Regions from separate parts of the Homo sapiens genome. Here region 1 is linked to region 2. A link means that fine-mapping ties the variant in region 2 to the expression of a gene that starts in the linked region. Tissue or cell type: whole blood. Region 2 holds a variant in brackets; the other region holds the start of a gene. All regions are shown on one strand. Distances are from middle to middle.

What was found.
Region 1: it holds the start of INTS7, and the variant in region 2 is fine-mapped to the expression of INTS7 in whole blood (TOPMed, PIP 0.97).

The regions. Positions count from the first base shown.
Region 1 is chr1:212,031,630-212,040,762 of GRCh38, forward strand. It overlaps INTS7 (integrator complex subunit 7), which reads right to left and starts at 3,928. Exons shown (of 20, transcript NM_015434.4): 1 at 3,715-3,928. The coding sequence starts at 3,808. It overlaps DTL (denticleless E3 ubiquitin protein ligase adapter), which reads left to right and starts at 4,119. Exons shown (of 15, transcript NM_016448.4): 1 at 4,119-4,313. The coding sequence starts at 4,262. RefSeq lists enhancers at 3,779-3,988, 3,867-4,403, 4,149-4,388, 4,404-4,938.
Region 2 is chr1:212,060,816-212,069,948 of GRCh38, forward strand. DTL (denticleless E3 ubiquitin protein ligase adapter) reads left to right here. Exons shown (of 15, transcript NM_016448.4): 6 at 2,069-2,134; 7 at 4,102-4,214; 8 at 5,997-6,070; 9 at 7,409-7,512; 10 at 7,784-7,888. Among named protein-coding and RNA genes, the nearest start is that of MIR3122, 12 kb to the right of the region's middle. The variant G/A (reference allele first, on the strand shown) is at 3,641.

The DNA of each region.
Region 1 (9,133 bases), 29 kb before region 2:
ATGTCTTGTTTGCCAACATAGCCCCTAGTCTGAGTATAGAGCCTGAGACAATGCAGGTGGTCAGTAAATATCTGTTGAGTAAATGAATGGCTATCACATGAAGGATGATTTTCCTGTTACTAACTACATCCTAAAGTAATGGAATTGAGTCAGCTTCAAAATAGTATTCACTTATTCCTATAGAGATCAGAAACAATCAGCTTACTGCCAATGCTTGCTCAAAAGGCTCAGAATAAAGTACAACAGTTATAAATATATAACAGGTTATGAATGGCAGCATTTCCTGAGTGTGTTTCTAAGGACACCAGTGCCACAAAATATTTCTTTAAAATAGCGTTCAAAGGTTACATCTTATGCCTAACTGACTAATCATCTCCATTTGGATGTCTAAGAGACATCTCAAATTTAACATGACCCAAACTGATTTGATTTCAGTAAACAATACATACATCCTCCCAGTAGCTCATACCAAAAACCTCTAAGTTTTCTTGACCACTTACTCTTATATCCTCATCTAATCCATTAGCAAATCTTCTTGGCTCTACTTTGAAAGTATATCCAGAATCTCAGCACTTCACACATTTTCAGTGTCACCATCTCGGTCTAAGCCACTATTTTCTTTTCCCTGGATTGTTATAGTTGCCTTCTCATTGGTCTCCCTACTTGGGTCCCTGACCCTCCCCACTTCAGTCTATTCTCAGCACAGTAGCCAGACTGATACTTTTCAAAGGAAAGTCAGATCATGTCACACACCTGCTGAAAATCCTCCATGGTTTCCTTTCTCACTCAGAATGAAAGCCAGTCCTTTTGATGGCTTGCACGGCCCTACCTGAACGGGACTCTGGTTATCTTTCTTTTTTTTTTTTCGAGACAGTCTTGCTCTGTTGCCCAGACTGGAGTGCAGTGGTGTGATCTCGGCTCACTGGAAGCCCCGCCTCCCAGGTTCACGCCATTCTCCTGCCTCAGCCTCCCAAGTAGCTGGAACTACAGGTGCCCACCACCACGCCTGGCTAATTTTTTGTATTTTGTTTAGTAGAGACAGGGTTTCACCATGTTAGCCAGGATGGTCTCGATCTCCTGACTTCGTGATCCGCCCGCCTCAGCTTCCCAAAGTGCGGGGATTACAGGCGTGAACCACCACGCCCGACTGACTCTGGTTATCTTTCTATACTCATTGCCTATTACTTTGCTCCAGATAACTGCATGCAAAGGAGGCTTCTACCTCAGGGCCTTTGTACTTGCTGTTCTTCCACTTGATTGAGGAGGTCTTTCTTGCCTATACTTCATAAAATAAGAAATCAACTCCAGCCCCAGATCAGTTTTCTCCAGTCCCTTTCATTGCTTCATTTTCCTTTATAATATGTATCACTAACTGTCACGTTTGCTATATTTGCGGAGTGTCTGCATCTGCTGTCTAGAATGTAAGCTCTATAGGGGCAGGAGTTTTGTCTCATTAACTGCCATGTTCCTAGTACAAAGCCCGATCAAATAAGTCATGTGTCTGAGTGTGTATGCTGAGGTGGGGGAGATATTTCAGAAACAGTATTCCTTGGAGTTTGGGAACGAAAAAAAGAGTTGGAACTTGTAGCCTTCTGACCTTTAGCTCACAAAACAGAAATACTTTAACAGGTACAAGATGAAATGACTCAATATTTAAAATACTCAACTATATTCTACACGAAACTGGCTATTTCTATAACTTAATTTCCTAACAGCTTTAAAAGTTACTACAGATGAGATGAAAAAGAACAAGTCATCTTTCTGAGCCTGAGATTCACCTGTAAAACACTCACGCCAGGCATTGCTGGGAGGAGTGCAAATGATCACTTACTCTGTGTCTAAGATTGACACCTGATTTCTTTCCTATAGATATAAAATATTTTCATTTCAACTCTTCTTTAAAAAGGAAAAATTGTGGTTTTTTTCTTACAACTGCAAAATTTGAGGAATTAAACCATTCTAGACTCCTCTTCAGTGCCCCATCTTTATCCCTGTTCCACAACCACTATCCTATTGTCAGCATGAGACAAGCTCAGCTGCACCAGAATGGTAGAAAATGTCCTTAGAACTCGTAGGGATATTAGATATTATCCTGACCTGTAACTTTCACTGAGGAATAAGAAAGAAATGTATCAGAATGAGGAGGAAAGTGTTTGAAAAACACATTTAAGGCCGGGCGCGGTGGCTCATGCCTGTAAATCCCAGCACTTTGGAAGGCCGAGGCGGACGGATCACCTGAGGTCAGGAGTTGGAGACCAGCCTGGCCAACATGGTGAAACCCCGTCTATACTAAAAATACAAAAATTAGCCGGGCGTGGTGGCGGGCGCCTGTAATTCCAGCTACTCGGGAGGCTGAGGCAGGAGAACCGTTTGAACTCGGGAGGCGGAGGTTGCAGTGAGCCGAGATGGCGCCACTGCACTCTAGCCTGGGCAACAGAGCAACACTCTGTCTCCAAAAAAAAAGAGAAAAACACATTTAGTATTATACTTTTTTTTTTCAGAGGAGAAAACCCCTAAAGATTTGGTAAGAGAAGGAAAAGTTCAACATAATTTTCTTGGTTGATGGGGGTGCACTAAAGATACTGAGACTCAACCAAAGGAATATCCCATTAGGGGGCTGTGAAATTTTTGTGTTTATCAAAATAAGGTAAAAGCTTTTTTAAGAGCCTGAGAAACTCTTATTTAGACTAACCCACTAAAAATATTCACAGTTTAAAAAATAAACAGAAAAAGAGTCCCAAAAAAGTTAATAGACATGTCCAACTCAGAAAACTGGGAAGTGGCTCAAACCCTTCTGAGTTCTAGTCCAGTTCTCCAACATTATATATTGGCTACGATTAATCAAGATTTAATTGTATACCAGCTGCCGAAATGTTTCCCGTACAATAAAAATCCTCAATATGAAATAAAGGTTTCATATTACTAGTCGAGTTCTTTACTAACAAATTTCCGACCTTGCCTCCCATATCCACATCTAAGAAGGGAGGTATATCTCTTCAGCATTTACTAAATGCTTCTTTTGCATACCATTAAGTCACTTAATACAATTCTGCCGGCTCAATGGTACTGTACCCACTTTGCAGACGACAAGCCGAGGCTAGATGAAGTTAATCATAAAATCAGCGGCATTGAAACTTAACTCAGTGTAACCCCAAAGCTCCCTCTACACCAAGCTGCTCCCTGTACGGCAACAGAACTCCTGGAACTTGTCCGCAGAGAATGAGCAGGGCCCTTGCTTTTTTATGGTCTTGGCCAGGTTTAGCCTGCCTTGTAACCCGCAGGTAACAGAGCTATGGAAATCAAATGAATCGCTGTCAAGTCGGTGCAAGATTACTATTCAGCACATTTCATGAAGACCTGGTCTCAACTGAACAGACTGAAAACCAATTTCACAATTTCTTTGCAGTGTCTCTTAGAAACTAGCCACTGTCACTGCTTAGAAAATCGGGGGACTGCTCCCTCAAGTGGTCAAAACGGGCCTCTCACTAGAGCTCGCTACTTGTTTAGCCGGTATAAGGCCAGTCACACAATCCTGCAAATTTCCCGCAACCTCCCGAAGGGGTCAAAGCCCACGCCCCAGCAAAAGCACAGGCGCTCCCCGCCCAGCGAAGACATGCGCATGCGCCTATCCGTCTTCTCCCAAAGCAACCACCACCTGGTGGCGCCACTTCCCCCCACGCCTGTTTCACCCATTCAGCCCTCTCTTTCGAATACCTTTGTCCAATTCCATAAGGGCAGAGTTGGCATCCAGTTCCTGTTCGCCATAGCCGGCATCTGCCAGGAAAGACTTAGTTGAGTTTGACGCCATGACCCGAATAGTTACTCGACTAGCCTAGTCAGAAAGCTTGCAAACTCTACCCCAGGACCGCCATCTTCCCCCGCCGCCTTCTTGCTGGTTTTTCTTCCGCGCGCTGTCAAGCCCTGTTACGCATGCGCCCTGGTCACCCCGCGGTTTGTCCGCGCCTCTGCTACCCCCTGCGCAGGCGCTCAAGGAGCTCTTGGACTCCAGGTTCCCGCGGCTGGGAGAAAAGGAGGCGGGGATCCGAAGGGGGAAATGACTCTGAGGCGCCCGGACGTCGCTCGGAAGCCAATCAGAGAGCGTGACGTCAGTTTGGCGCGGAGTTTGGCGGCCGGGGCTTACAGTGGCGGGAGTTGGAGGCGATAACGATTTGTGTTGTGAGAGGCGCAAGCTGCGATTTCTGCTGAACTTGGAGGCATTTCTACGACTTTTCTCTCAGCTGAGGCTTTTCCTCCGACCCTGATGCTCTTCAATTCGGTGCTCCGCCAGCCCCAGCTTGGCGTCCTGAGAAATGGTGAGTAACGGTCCCAACCGCTGCTCGGAGCTGGCGGAATTCATTTCCCCCGAAACACACGCCACCTCCGACCAGGGCCGACTCCAATTCTGAACTCAGCTTCTGAGTTCTCCCATGGCAAGGGTAAATTAGTGTTAGCAGGGACTACTAAAGAAAGCTGTACTTTCATCCCCTCGGGACACTTGTAATCGTAATCGGGCTTTTAAAATCGTAACGTAGGCAGGGACGTCGAAATAACTGCCTTCCAAGGCCCCTTACAGCTTACATCTCCATTGCGCGTTAACGGGAAAATGCATGCATTTGTGTGTATATGTTTCCTTCAACGGTTATTTGAGATGCTCAAAACTCCTAATCATTGATTAATTCATTCGTTTGTTGTAGAATCTTAGTGAGCCCAGCTATGTGCTATAGGTATATACCAGTGAATATGACCCGCTGTTAAGGAACTCAGTCAAGCAGAGAAGACAGGATATCTGCTTCTAACAGGAACAAAATCTTATTTTCCCCGTTTACTACACGGTCATAAAAATTTAAATTATAGAGTGAAAGATGCCTGTAACCACATCCGCCAGAGATGACCCCTGTTAATAGATTGAAGTATATTATTCCAGATGTTTTCGACGCTAGAGGTAATACCTATTATTTTCAGAAATCGGATCAAAACGTCCAGTTTTTTCACTTTAATGGTATAAGTTGAACGTATTCCCATGTTAATACGTAGAAATCTAACTTATTTTCTTACGCTAAAACATTGGCAATAAGAGATTTGAGGTTAGATTTGGATGTCATCAACTTAAACTTTTTGGTAAGTTTCAGATAAGGGAGCTAACTACCCAGATTAACCTTGGACAGAAATAAAATCTCACTCATGTGAAGGTCGACTATAGCCAGAGGTTCTTTTTCCCCTTGAAACTATGTGGAAAACGAACCTGAGAAGGGAATTTTTATATTCAGCGATGAGTCTAGGAAAATAATATTGAGAAAGAGACTGAGAAGTAGTCCCTCAACTTCCTGCTAGCAGTCTGAAACTTTATACCATCCTTATTTATTTCCCTCTTAGATAATCTTTGTAATTATACTTAAATGCTCCTCTTTCTGTCTCTCCTGGGACCTTGTTTGAGTAACTTCTTTGTCCTCTGTTTAAGAGTGACAGTACGCACAGTGGCTAAGAACTCTGTCTTTGAAGTTAAACTGCCTGGGTTTTATTATACTTCCACACCTTACTATATGTGTGTTCTGGGGGAGCTGTTCAGCCTCTATTTTGTGACAGATTTTCTCCTAATTCTCCATGTGTTTACCTTTCCCTTCCCTCTTTCCTATTCTCAAGTACTCATTCGTTGTTACATAATAGTCACTGAAATTCATTCGTTATTATATGAAATCTATAGAATCATCTCCTTTCCTCTTCAGTGTTGGTGTTCCATCCTTGACCCCTTTTCTTCTTCTACCTACTCCTTTGGATGATCACAGCCACAACCAGGGCTTCTTCCACTTCTACATACATACAACCTTCTGTTACTTATATAGTAAGTCCTCACTTAATGTCTAGATAGGCTCTTGGAAACTGTGACTTTAGGGAAAACAGTGTATAACTAAACTAACTCTACCATAGGCTACTTGATATAAATAAGAATTGTTTCAGTGGCATATTTTGGTCACACAAACACCACCGAACTTCTAAAGAAAGACTCAAAGTACTTTTAATATTAAATGTTGAAATAATTGTGTGCTATACATATATTTGAGAAAGATTAATAAAAACAGGTGAGATAATTATCCAAGTTTTGGTGTATCAGCGAGTGACCTCGGTCATAGTGGTGGTGGGCTAAATCAAGGAATAAATGTTTGCAAAGTGAAAATTGGAAGGAGCACCTCCTACCACCACCCAGGTCAAAAACAATCACAAATATGGCAGCTCACTGAGCCCTTTCATACCAAATCGTTTATTGTCATTCATTTGTATGATTATTGTAAAGTTTACCCATTTTTATTTTACAATGATTTGTATTCATTCATTTTCTGACACACTTATTCCAGCTCAGGGCTGTGGGTGCCCGGAGCCTATCCTGGCAGCTCATGGTACAAGGTGGAAACCAGCTCTAGACCAGACACTATTTCATCACAGGAAGCACTCACACACACTCATTGTCTACTGGGACCATGTAGACACACCAGTGAACCTAACATACACATCTTTGGCATGTGGGAGGAAACCAGAGTACCTGGAGAAAACCCCTATGAACATGGGAAGAGCATGTACAAACTCCACACGGCCAATGGCCTCAAACAGGAATTGATTTTTTCCTCATGAACAGTATAACGAAATGACATTGTACAAAATTATGTTATTGGAAGACTTCCTGTACCTGAGATTCATTTCTATAAAAGCTGTGTGGGTTGATTAGCACCTAGACGGTCAATCCCACAAGCATCTCAAACTCAAATACCCAAAACTGAACTCAGCTTTTCCCCCAAACCTGCAATATTACCAATTTTAGAGAGTGGCCTCATTATTTAAACCTGCCAGAAACCTGAGTAAATTAAAGACTTCTTCATCTTCCTCACAGTTACACATTCAAAACATTTCGTTAAAATCTCTTGAATCCATCCTCTCTTCTTTATCTGTTATGATTATGCATCTTTACTGTATGCTGGATGTGTTCTATTTTTACTATTCCATTTCCCTAGGTTGGGCCCTAATGCCTTCTTGTCTGGATTGTAAGAAGTCTCCCAGATGGCCTCCTAGTTTGTCTGTCTTCGGTTTATTCTCCACATTGCTGCTAATGATCCTTCTAAAATGGAAATCTGATTACTCTTCTGTGTATTTTTAAATTGATATCTAAAAGTTTTTATTATAAACTTAAACAAATGCAAAGAATATAATTTCTGACCATATTGGGAATATTGACATTTTAAAAATAAAAATGCTATATCACTCCTTTAAGTGTATCTAATATAATTTAAATACTATAGTGATTTGATAATCACATCATCCATTTTTTAGAAAAATACAAACTCCTCTTTATCTGCTGGACATTCCATATAGCTGCTTTTTCCTCTTGAATTTATTTCCATTTCATTTCTCCTACAGAATTTCTCCTAATGTAATTTAATTTTATGCTTGAAAAGCTCTTTTACTGATCACTCTGTCATACCCTTCTGTGTCAAAAAATGTGTTTAAATTGCTGTTTTCTGTCATAAGCCTCCAAGTATTAAAACTTCTTTATGGATTGAATTTTCAATTCAATTATTAGTACTATATGATTGATTAAAACAATATAGATTACCAATTTTGATAATTATTAACCAAAAGTAAAATTTTATTGGAAGTCCATCTTTTTAAAGAGATGAATTTGGGTGTTTATGGTCCCTTTATTGAAGGAATTATTTAATTATCTCTTAGTTAAGGTTCCACCAGTTTATTTGTTTTTATTTAAAAATATTTGATACCCAAAAGTTTTTATTCTTTGGATCAGTGCAAGGTTTAAGATTGGGGCACGGGAATGCCTTTCTTTTATAAAGTGGAAGAAAGGAAGTGATGAAGGGAAAGGGAAAAAGTGGTACCTCAACCTTCTCAGAGACATCAGGTTTTTCAGACAGGTGAGTTTTAGAAATGCGTATATAGTCATCCAATTGCTTATAAATGGAGATAACATTTTGAGAAATGCATCATTAGGTGATTTTATCATTGTGCAAACATCACAGAGTATAAACACAAAGCTAGATAGTGTAACTACTACACACCTAAGCTATATATTTTTCCTAGGCTATAAACCTGTGTAGCATATTACTGTATTGAATACCGTAGGCAACTGTAACACAATGGTAAGTATTTGTGTATTTAAACATAGAAAAGGTTCAGTAAAAATAGGATATAAAAGATAAAAAATGGTAACACCTGTGGAGGGTGCTTACTATGAATGGGAGCTTGCAGGACTGGGGGTTGCTGTGAGTGAATCAGTGAGTGAGTAGTCAGTCAGCACGAAGACCTGGGACATTATACTACTGTAGACTTTATAAACACTCTATACTTAGGCTGCATTAAATTGATTAAAAAATACTTTCTTCAATAATAAATTAACCTTAGCTTACTGTAACTTTTAAACTTACAAACATCTTAAATTTTTTAACTTTTTGACCCTTGTGGTAACAGGTAGCATAAAGCACAGACACATTGTATAATTGTACAAAATATTTTATTTCTTCATATTCTTATTCTATAAGTTTTTTTATTTTAAATGTTTTTCTTTTCTTAACTTTTCAAACCTTTTGTTAAAAACTAAGACACAATAGGAATTTTTAAGCTCCATTATAATGTTGTAAGACTACCATTGTGTATGCGGTCTGTCTTTGGCCAAAATGCCATTACATGGCATATGACTGTATATCGTAGTTGAGTACAGTAGTACCTCCTTATCCTTGAAGGATATGTTCCAAGACCCAACCCTATGTATGCTGTGTTTTTTACTATACAGACACATACCTATGATTAAGTTTAGGCACAGTAAGAGATTAACAATAACTAATAATAACATAGAACAATTATAACGATATTCTGTAATAAAAGTTATGTGAAGGTGGCCTCTCGGAATATCTCATGGTGCTATATACTTGCCCTTCTCATGATGATGTGAGATGATATAATACCTACAACATGAAGAGATGAAGTGAGATGAATGACGTAGGCAGGCACTGTGATATAACATTAGGCTACTACTTCCAACTATGTGACAGACAAAGCAGCTTCTATGTGATATAACATTAGGCTACTACTCCCAACTATGTGACAGACACAGCAGCTAAGTGACTAAAGAGCAGGT
Region 2 (9,133 bases):
TAGGGAAAACACTTCAGGATATTGGTTTAGGCAAAGATTTTATGGCTGGCCAAGAACTCAAAAGCACAGACAACAAGAACAAATAGATAAACTAGACTATACTAAACTAAAAAGCTTCTGCATGCCAAAACTTTTTGAATGGGAAGTATTTGCAAACTATTTATCTGATAAGGGAATAATATGTAGAATGTATACAAGGAACTCGAACAACTCAACAGTAGAAAAGACAAAATATTAAAAAGTAGGCAAACACAGACTGGGCAATGTGCCAAAACTGTCTCTACAAAGAAATACAAAAAAATTAACTGGGCATGGTGGTGTACTACTGTAGTCCCAGCTACTTGGTGGGGCTGAGATGAGAGGATCACTGAGCCCTGAGCGGTGATTACATCGCTGTACTCCAGCCTGAGTGATAGAGTGAGATCCTGTCTCAAAAAAAAAAAAAAAGTAGGCAAAGACCATGAATAGACATTTCGCGAAAGAAGACATACAAATGGCCAACAGGTATGTGAAAAACTGCTCAACATGACTAATAACCACAGTGAGATATCATCTTAACCCAGTTAGAATGGCTATTATTAAACAAAACATGCTGGCAAGGATGTGGAGAAAAGAGAACTCTTGTACACTGTTGGTGGAAATGTAAATTAGTCCAGTCACTATGGAAAACAGTAAGATTTCTCAAAAAAAAAAAAACAAATAGAATTACCATTGATCTAGCAGTCTCATTATTGGGTATTGATTCAAAGACAAACAGTATATCAAAGGAATAACTGCAGTCACATTGTTGCAGCACTATTCACAATAGCCAAGATATGGAATCAACCTGTCTATTAACGAACAAATAGAGTTTTTAAAAATGTAGTATATACACAATTGAATACTATTTGGCCATAAGGAAATGTCATTCACATCAACATTATGTTAAACAAGCCAGGCACAAAAGATAAATTTCACATGTTCCCATTTATATGTGGGTGCTAAAACAGTATCATGGAGGTAGAGAGTAGAATGATAAATAACCAGAGGCTGGAAAGTGAGTGGGTGTGAGGGGGGAATGAAGAAAGGTTGCTTGATGGATACAAGCATAAAGTTAGATAGAAGGTGTAAGTTCCATTGTTCGATACCTGACTATTGTCACCTTACAAATTATTGTATATTTCAAGCAGCTAGAAGAGAGAACTTAAAATGTTCCCAGCACATAGAAATGATGAATACAAGGTGATGGATACCCCAGATACCCTGACTTGATCATAACACATTCTATGCAGGCATCAAAATATCACATATACCCCATAAATATGTAAAATACTATGTATCAGTAAGAAAAATTGCATGTTTTCATTCAGTTTCCACAGAGCCCTCAGGTAGCTGTTTTTGTGTTTTATCCCATGTACAACTAATGCAAGTGGATTAGTTTAAGTGCTCACTCTTTCACACAGGAAGCAGGGTTTTTTTCTGGCTTAATTTTAAAGAATAAAACATTACAGATAAATTGAAGTTCTCCTATAGTGCCTTTTCCAATCCCATTGCATCCCAGGCAACCTCTTTAACAAACTTCATATGGATCTGGTCCATATTTTTATACTGAGCCAATACAGTTTAGAGGTTTGGAGTGTAAGCTCTGGATTCATACTGCCAGGAATACCTTTACAAGTTACTTATCCTCTCTGTGCCTCTCTTGGTACTTACCTAATAAGGTTGATAGCAAGGATTGAGATAATTTTTATAAAACACGCGGGATAGTAGCTAACATTTAGAATAAGAAGCACTCTGTATTTTGACTCTTGATTGTTATTCTTATTACAACTGTACTATATATTTTATATGGGTTTTAAAAAATTTACAGAGGGGTGATTCTATGAAGTTTTGGTTCAACATTAGCATCTCAAGCTCTTCATAATCCTTTTTCCTATTTGTTATTGAGCCATATATTTTTAAATGTTTGATCTCCAGTGACAGATACAGTACCTAGCACATAATAGATAGTCTACAAAATGTAAACTGAAATATATGTGTCATTGACTGGTTTTGTTAACCTCTTAATAATCTGTTTATTTCCCCACAGCTGTATTCTGTACGGGTGGAAGAGATGGCAACATTATGGTCTGGGATACCAGGTGCAACAAAAAAGGTTATCTAGATCTATTTTAATTTTGAGAGATTTGGGATTACCCTGTACTTAATTTTGAGTGAAAGAGTTAGTGATTTCATCTGATTACCACCAGGGGGCATGTACTCATAATTTCCCATTTCTGCTCACTGTTCCAGATCTCAGGATCTTCACTGAGTGTCCTGAGTGATAAATACATGAGTGTCACTGTTACAAGTATTACACTCATGTATTTATCTCATATTGTCTTCTGAATTATAATGCCATTTACCCACATTATTGATGGACTTAAAAATATTAATACGCAGCCTCACTGGTAAATGTCTTTATTTTGGTTTTTAAGAATTTTTTTTATTTTATTATTATTATTTTTTTTTTTTTTGAGATGGAGTCTCTGTCACCCAGGCTGGAGTGCAGTGGCGTGAACTTGGCTCACTGCACTCCCCACCCGCTGGGTTCCAGCAATTCCTCTAGCTCAGCCTCCTGAGTAGCTGGGATTACAGCCACCCGCCACCATGCCTGGCTAATTTTTGTATTTTTTTAATAGAAATGGGGTTTCACTATGTTGGCCAGGCTGGTCTCAAACTCCTGACCTCAAGTGATCTGCCCACCCTGGCCTCCCAAAGTGCTGAAATTACAGGCGTGAGTCACCAGGCCCAGCCTGATTTTAAAGAATTAGATTGAATTAAACATAAGCTCATGGTTGTCTCATGATGCTATTAAGCAGACGATGATTATCTCACTGTTCACTTTTAGTTAATTTATTAAAATTTTTTTTTGTGTCTGCATTTTAAAAAATTGGTAACATAGTTCTACATATTTTCAGGGGTATATGTGATATCTTGATACATATATAGAACATGAAATGATCAAATCAGGATAATTGGGATATCCATCACCTCAAACATTTATCTTTTCTTTGTGTTGGGAACATTACAATTCTTCTCTTCTGGTTTTTTGTTTCTTGTTTTTTTTTTTTTTGGAGACGGAGTCTCACTCTGTCACCCAGGCTGGAGTGCAGTGGCGTGATCTCATCTCGCTGCAACCTCCGCCTCCTGGGTTCAAGTAATTCTCCTACCTCAGCCTCTCAAGTAGCTGGGATTACAGGTGCATGCCACCACTCCCAGCTAGTTATGTATTTTTAGTACAGACAGGATTTCACCATGTTGGCCAGGCTGATCTGGAACTCCTGACCTCAGGCAATCTGCCTGCCTCAGCCTCCCATTCTTCTAGCTATTTTGAAATAAATAATAAAATTATTTAGAAAAATTTTAATAAACCTTATTTTGTAGAGCAGTTTTAGGTTCACAGCAAAACTGAGCAGAAAGTACAGAGAGTTCCCATATAGCCCCTGCCCTGCCCACACACAGACTTCCCCACTGACAACATCCTGTGCCTGAGTGGTACATTTGTTATAATCAGTTAACCTATGTCAACACATGCTGTCACTCAGAGTTTATAATTTACATCAGTGTTATATATTCTTAGTATTACACATTCTGTGGATATTGACAAATGTGTAATGAC[G/A]TGCGTCCACCATTGTAGCATCATACACAATAGTTTCACTACTCTAGAAATCCTCTGTGCTCCAGTTATTCATCCCTACCTCCCTCTAAGCCCTGGCAACCACTGATCTTATTACTTCCCCCAGTCACATTTCCTCCATGTCATTTTATGGCTTTATCAAGCTCATTTCTTTCCAGTGCTGAATAATATTCCATTGTCTGGATGAACCAAAGTTTATCCATTCACCTACTGAAGGACATCTTGGTTGTTTCCAAGTTTTGGCAATTATTAAAGCTGTTATAAACATCTCTCCCTTTTTATACATTATAGTCTCACCACAGGAGATGTAGTGCAGCTGGCTCTGCTGGCTTCTAATTTCACCAACTTGGTCAAAAATTACTTAATATTGAAGTTTTATTTACACATGTTATATTCAGCATGTAAGAATCCTGAAACCTAAATTTCCTTGGAATATCTTTCAGATGGGTTTTATAGGCAAGTGAATCAAATCAGTGGAGCTCACAATACCTCAGACAAGCAAACCCCTTCAAAACCCAAGAAGAAACAGAATTCAAAAGGACTTGCTCCTTCTGTGGTAAGGTTTTACAGATGTATACATGTGTGCAGATCTTATCTGTAGGATAGAATAAATGGGAGGCTATTGATTAAGTGAATGAGAATCTTCATGATTCTCATTTGATATCAGTGGTTTATTGCTTATTCAGTACCTACATTTGTGGTTCTCAAATTTTAATTTTTGGTTCTTCTGAATTATAATGCCATTTACCTATATTATTGATGGAATTAAAATATATGTAGCCTCGTTGATAAATATCTTTAAATTTATTTTGGTTTTAAAGAATTAGATTGAATTAAACATAAGATGTTGTCTCATGCCATTAAGCAGAAAGTGGTTTTTTTTTTTACAATTTCAATATCTACATTTTAAAAAATTGATAACATAATTTTACATATTTTGGGGGGTACACTATGTATAATGATCAAATCAGGGTAATTGAGATAGCCATCACTTCAAATACTGTGTGCATCAGAGTTGCCTGAGGCACATGTTGAAAATTCACCTTACTCATCCCTAAAAATCTCTCTACACACACAGACACAAACACACACACACAAACACACCCCTATAGTATAGTGGAATTCATTAGGAAAAGTGGGGGAGGAGTAGTTTGAAGAAGCATATTAAGTACTGTGATGCAGTTTTCTAAGGGGAAAGAATACCTGTTGTTTTCGTAATACAAACTACAGAAAAATATGTTTTTTGTTTTGAGACAGAGTCTCGCTCTGTCACCCAGGCTGGAGTGCAGTGGCGCAATCTTGGCTCACTGCAAGCACCGCCTCCCAGGTTCACACCATTCTCCTGCCTCAGCCTCCCAAGTAGCTGGGACTACAGGTGCCCACCACCACGCCCAGCTAATTTTTTGTTTTTTTAGTAGAGACGGGGTTTCACCGTGTTAGCCAGGATAGCCTCAATCTCCTGACCTCGTGAGCCTCCCAAAGTGCTGGGATTACCGATGTGAGCCACCACGCCTGGCCAGCTTATTTTTAAGCATTTGACAAAATATTGTTAAATATATTGAGAAACACATGGGTAGAACATAGTACCACTCTAATAACTTACAGTCAGAGCTCAAACAATGCCCATAATATATCCTTTTTCTTTAAAAAATTGCCCTTTTTCTCACTTTAATGTAATTTTTTTTTCATATTCCTGGTGTGTAGGGTACAAGTTAATATTTTGGGGGAAGTATGACTGCTAAGACATTAAGACTTAAAACTATACACCGTGAACAGGACACAAGCATGAATGGAAGCAGATAGTAGAGGCCATATGAAGTTAAAACGAGTAGCATTTCAGACATTTAATCTGGTTCTGAGCCAAGATAACTTGTTAAGTAATAGCAATTAGGAGGTACGACTCCACTGGGCCTCTTTTTCAGGGCATGAAATAATCTTTTATTCATAATTCTTTTGATACTCCTATATGATAATCTAGGTAGACAGCAACATTTTAGAGATTAAACTGGCACAAGAAAGTTAAATAAGTTTCCTAAGGATACACACAGCATATTAGTAGGGCTGAGTCTAAGTAGATGCAGTAGGCTCAGACGAGCAAAATCTTTTAGTCACCAGTTTGTTTTTTGAGTATAAGTTGAAATATTAACACTGTATACTAAAACTTAATGATCCTTGCTAAAATTACCTCTTGGTCAGCATATATATCTGATCGAGATCATTAGACAAGACTTCATCTAAGTCAGTCTGGGGAGAAAAGTCGTTTTTTAGCACCTTGTTCCCTTGATGGTAAAGATTATGATGCCCAAGATAGAATCTTCTTCTTTTCTTGTGCTATCAGGATTTCCAGCAAAGTGTTACTGTGGTCCTCTTTCAAGACGAGAATACCTTAGTCTCAGCAGGAGCTGTGGATGGGTAAGAGTCTATTTCTTTTTTCTTCCGACGAGATCTTTTTTATGAGATTGTGATGAGGCAGTCACATAGTCTCATTATAATTGAATGTGTGTGCTTTCAACTGTCAACATAGCAAGTACCCCAACTGAGGAAAGGAGCTATAGATCACATTGGAAAATACCTAGTTGAAGGACTCTTGCTGGATAATTAAATGAAAGAATACATGTGTCACGCTTAGCACATTGTCTAGCACATAAGAGCAGTGGTAGCTGCTGTTGCTATCTTAGAAAAGAAGCTGGCTGGGTAGCTTGCTTGCCTTATGCAATATAATTTAGTCACTAATTCTCATTTTGAAGAGTAAAATTTCTGTTACTTTGGGTTTTGTCTTTTTCAGGTTTAAGAATATCCTAAAAGAAGAAATCTGATTCTGGGGATGTAATTGACATTTCTGGGAGTAATCTAACTAGATTGATGATAGTAAGGTCTAATGACTTTCACATACCTGTCATCCATGATTAGTCTGAATTCTTGGCTTCCAAATAAGTCTGCTCTGTGATGCTTGTTGATTGTGTTGTAGAATATTAATTCTATGCAAATGGAGACTCTTTCTTTTTAAGTTTCCTTCCTATTATATCTCTCAAGGCATCCTTCTCTTAAAATTTTTAATTTAAAAGATGATGGCTTACCAAACTAGGATTTCCATTGTGTCCTCTGGGCACTAAAACCCTCTGAACCAAATTCTCAGGCAGGAATGAAGGATTATCTAAAGGTTATTAGTTCTGCTTGTGAATGACTGTGAAAGCTTGCTCTGTTTGTTTCCAAGAATACTGTCATTTCATAGCAGGTCTGTGTTTTCAAGTTACCTTTATACTAGAAGTAGAGGATTAAGACAATTATCTCAATAGATGAAATGAAAAAATACTTTATTTCACAGAACAATTTGTTTAGATTATTTAAAGAGTTATGTATGGAGATATAACCACAGGGACAGAACTTGCTACTTATGATATCAAAAATATATGCAGAATATTAAAGGCTTAGGAAGTGTATTTTCTAAAAACAATGGAACAATTACTATCGGCACTCAACCTTCATCTTCCTTTTCCGTTCTCTTAGAGTAAACTCCAGTAACCCATCACTGGGTCAAATCACATCTGTTTCCGTTCTGTCAGAATTATAAGCCTGATATTGGAGACAACAGTATAAGATACTTTAATTTGTTTCCCAATGAAATATCCTTACTGTACCTAGTTAATGTGCCAGAGGAGTTAGATTAAAAGTCATTTCACATTTAGTGTAGTTGAAGTTGTTTGGGGTTGGAAGAAGGTCTACAAAATATTTATTTGCCTTGGTTTTTAGGATAATCAAAGTATGGGATTTACGTAAGAATTATACTGCTTATCGACAAGAACCCATAGCATCCAAGTCTTTCCTGTACCCAGGTAGCAGCACTCGAAAACTTGGTAAGCCTTTAATAGGTCTTTTGGGGGAGATAAGAGTTTTTGTTTAAAAAAAAAAAAAAAGGCTAATTTCCAGTAACATTGATATGAAAAATTCTAATATGTGAAGTTCAAAAGATAAAAACTCAGAAGAATGTTTTTGGTTTGTGTATATTTTGGGGACAAAGAATTCTGATGATGATTCTTATGAAATGATCTATTTTTGTCTCTACATTTTAACCTCAGATCTACTCACCATCATCAGGACGTGCTAACTTAAGTTTCCTTTTTCCAGGATATTCAAGTCTGATTTTGGATTCCACTGGCTCTACTTTATTTGCTAATTGCACAGACGATAACATCTACATGTTTAATATGACTGGGTTGAAGACTTCTCCAGGTAAGATATTAGTCATTCAAATTCTCTTACCAGGAAAGCATTATGGGCTTTTTTTGGTAATGATAATTTAATGGGCTTTCTTCTAAACTGAACTTATTAAGCCATATGAGGACTTTGGCATCTTTGATTACATCCAGTGATAATTTCATAAGTGTACATTCCTTGTGATGATTTCATAAGTTAGCTGAATTGTGCTTTACATGGTGACTTTATTTTAATAGAGAGTATCTCCTGAAATTATGCCCTTTGGCCTATATTTAGAATTCTCTCAATTTTTTATTTAATAAGCTGTGGAGTAGATAAAGTGCTTCTGCTCAGCTTTTTTCCTCTTTAGGGGCTGCTGGTTAAAATTAGGGGGCTGAAATTTTCATACCCCCAAAATAGTTTCAGCCTATCTCAGCCTTCTCCTTAATGTTAGAGGCCCTTTTATTTCTAGATGTTTTCCCCAGCCTCACCTTTTTTTTTTCCTCAAAACTTTAAAAATAGAATCTGATACTTAAAACTAATAAATAAATGATAGTTTTAAAAAGAAAACCCAAGTTTCTCAAGCATGCTTTCCTCTTTTTTTTAATCCTCTCCCCTCCCTCTTCCAAATCACCAGCCTCAGGCATGCTTTAAGAGAGTTATTTGGGTTACATTATTTTTAAGAACATCAATTTCTTAAGCAACATCTTAGTAGCCTGGTTATTCCTCATCTATAGATCTTTCAAAAACACTTTGAATTCCATAACCAATCCTCAGAGTTACCCAGTTTCCACTAAAGTAAAAAGTGCTGATAAACAAGAAATCTCAAGTACAGAACTTGTTTTATTTTATTTATAGATAGATGTAGATATAGATATAAATTTTTTTTTTTTTTTGAGACGGAGTTTCACTCTGTTGCCCAGGCTGGAGTGCAGTGGTTCGATCTCGGCTCACTGCACCCTCCGCCTCCTGGGTTCAAGCAATTCTCCTGCCTCAGCCTCCCAAGTAGCTGGGATTACAGGCGCCCGCCACCATGCCTGGCTAATTTTTGTATTTTTAGTAAAGGCAGGGTTTCACCTTGTTGGTCAGGCTGGTCTCGAACTCCTGACCTCATGATCCACCCACCTCAGCCTCCCAAAGTGCTGGGATTACAGGCGTGAGCCACCATGCCCGGCCCAGAACTTGTCATTTTAGCTGAGATCTTACAGAATTTTCCAAAGATCACCCCAAGCAATCTTATTAGGACTTTAGTATCGGTGGCAGCATCATAGTCTGCATTTC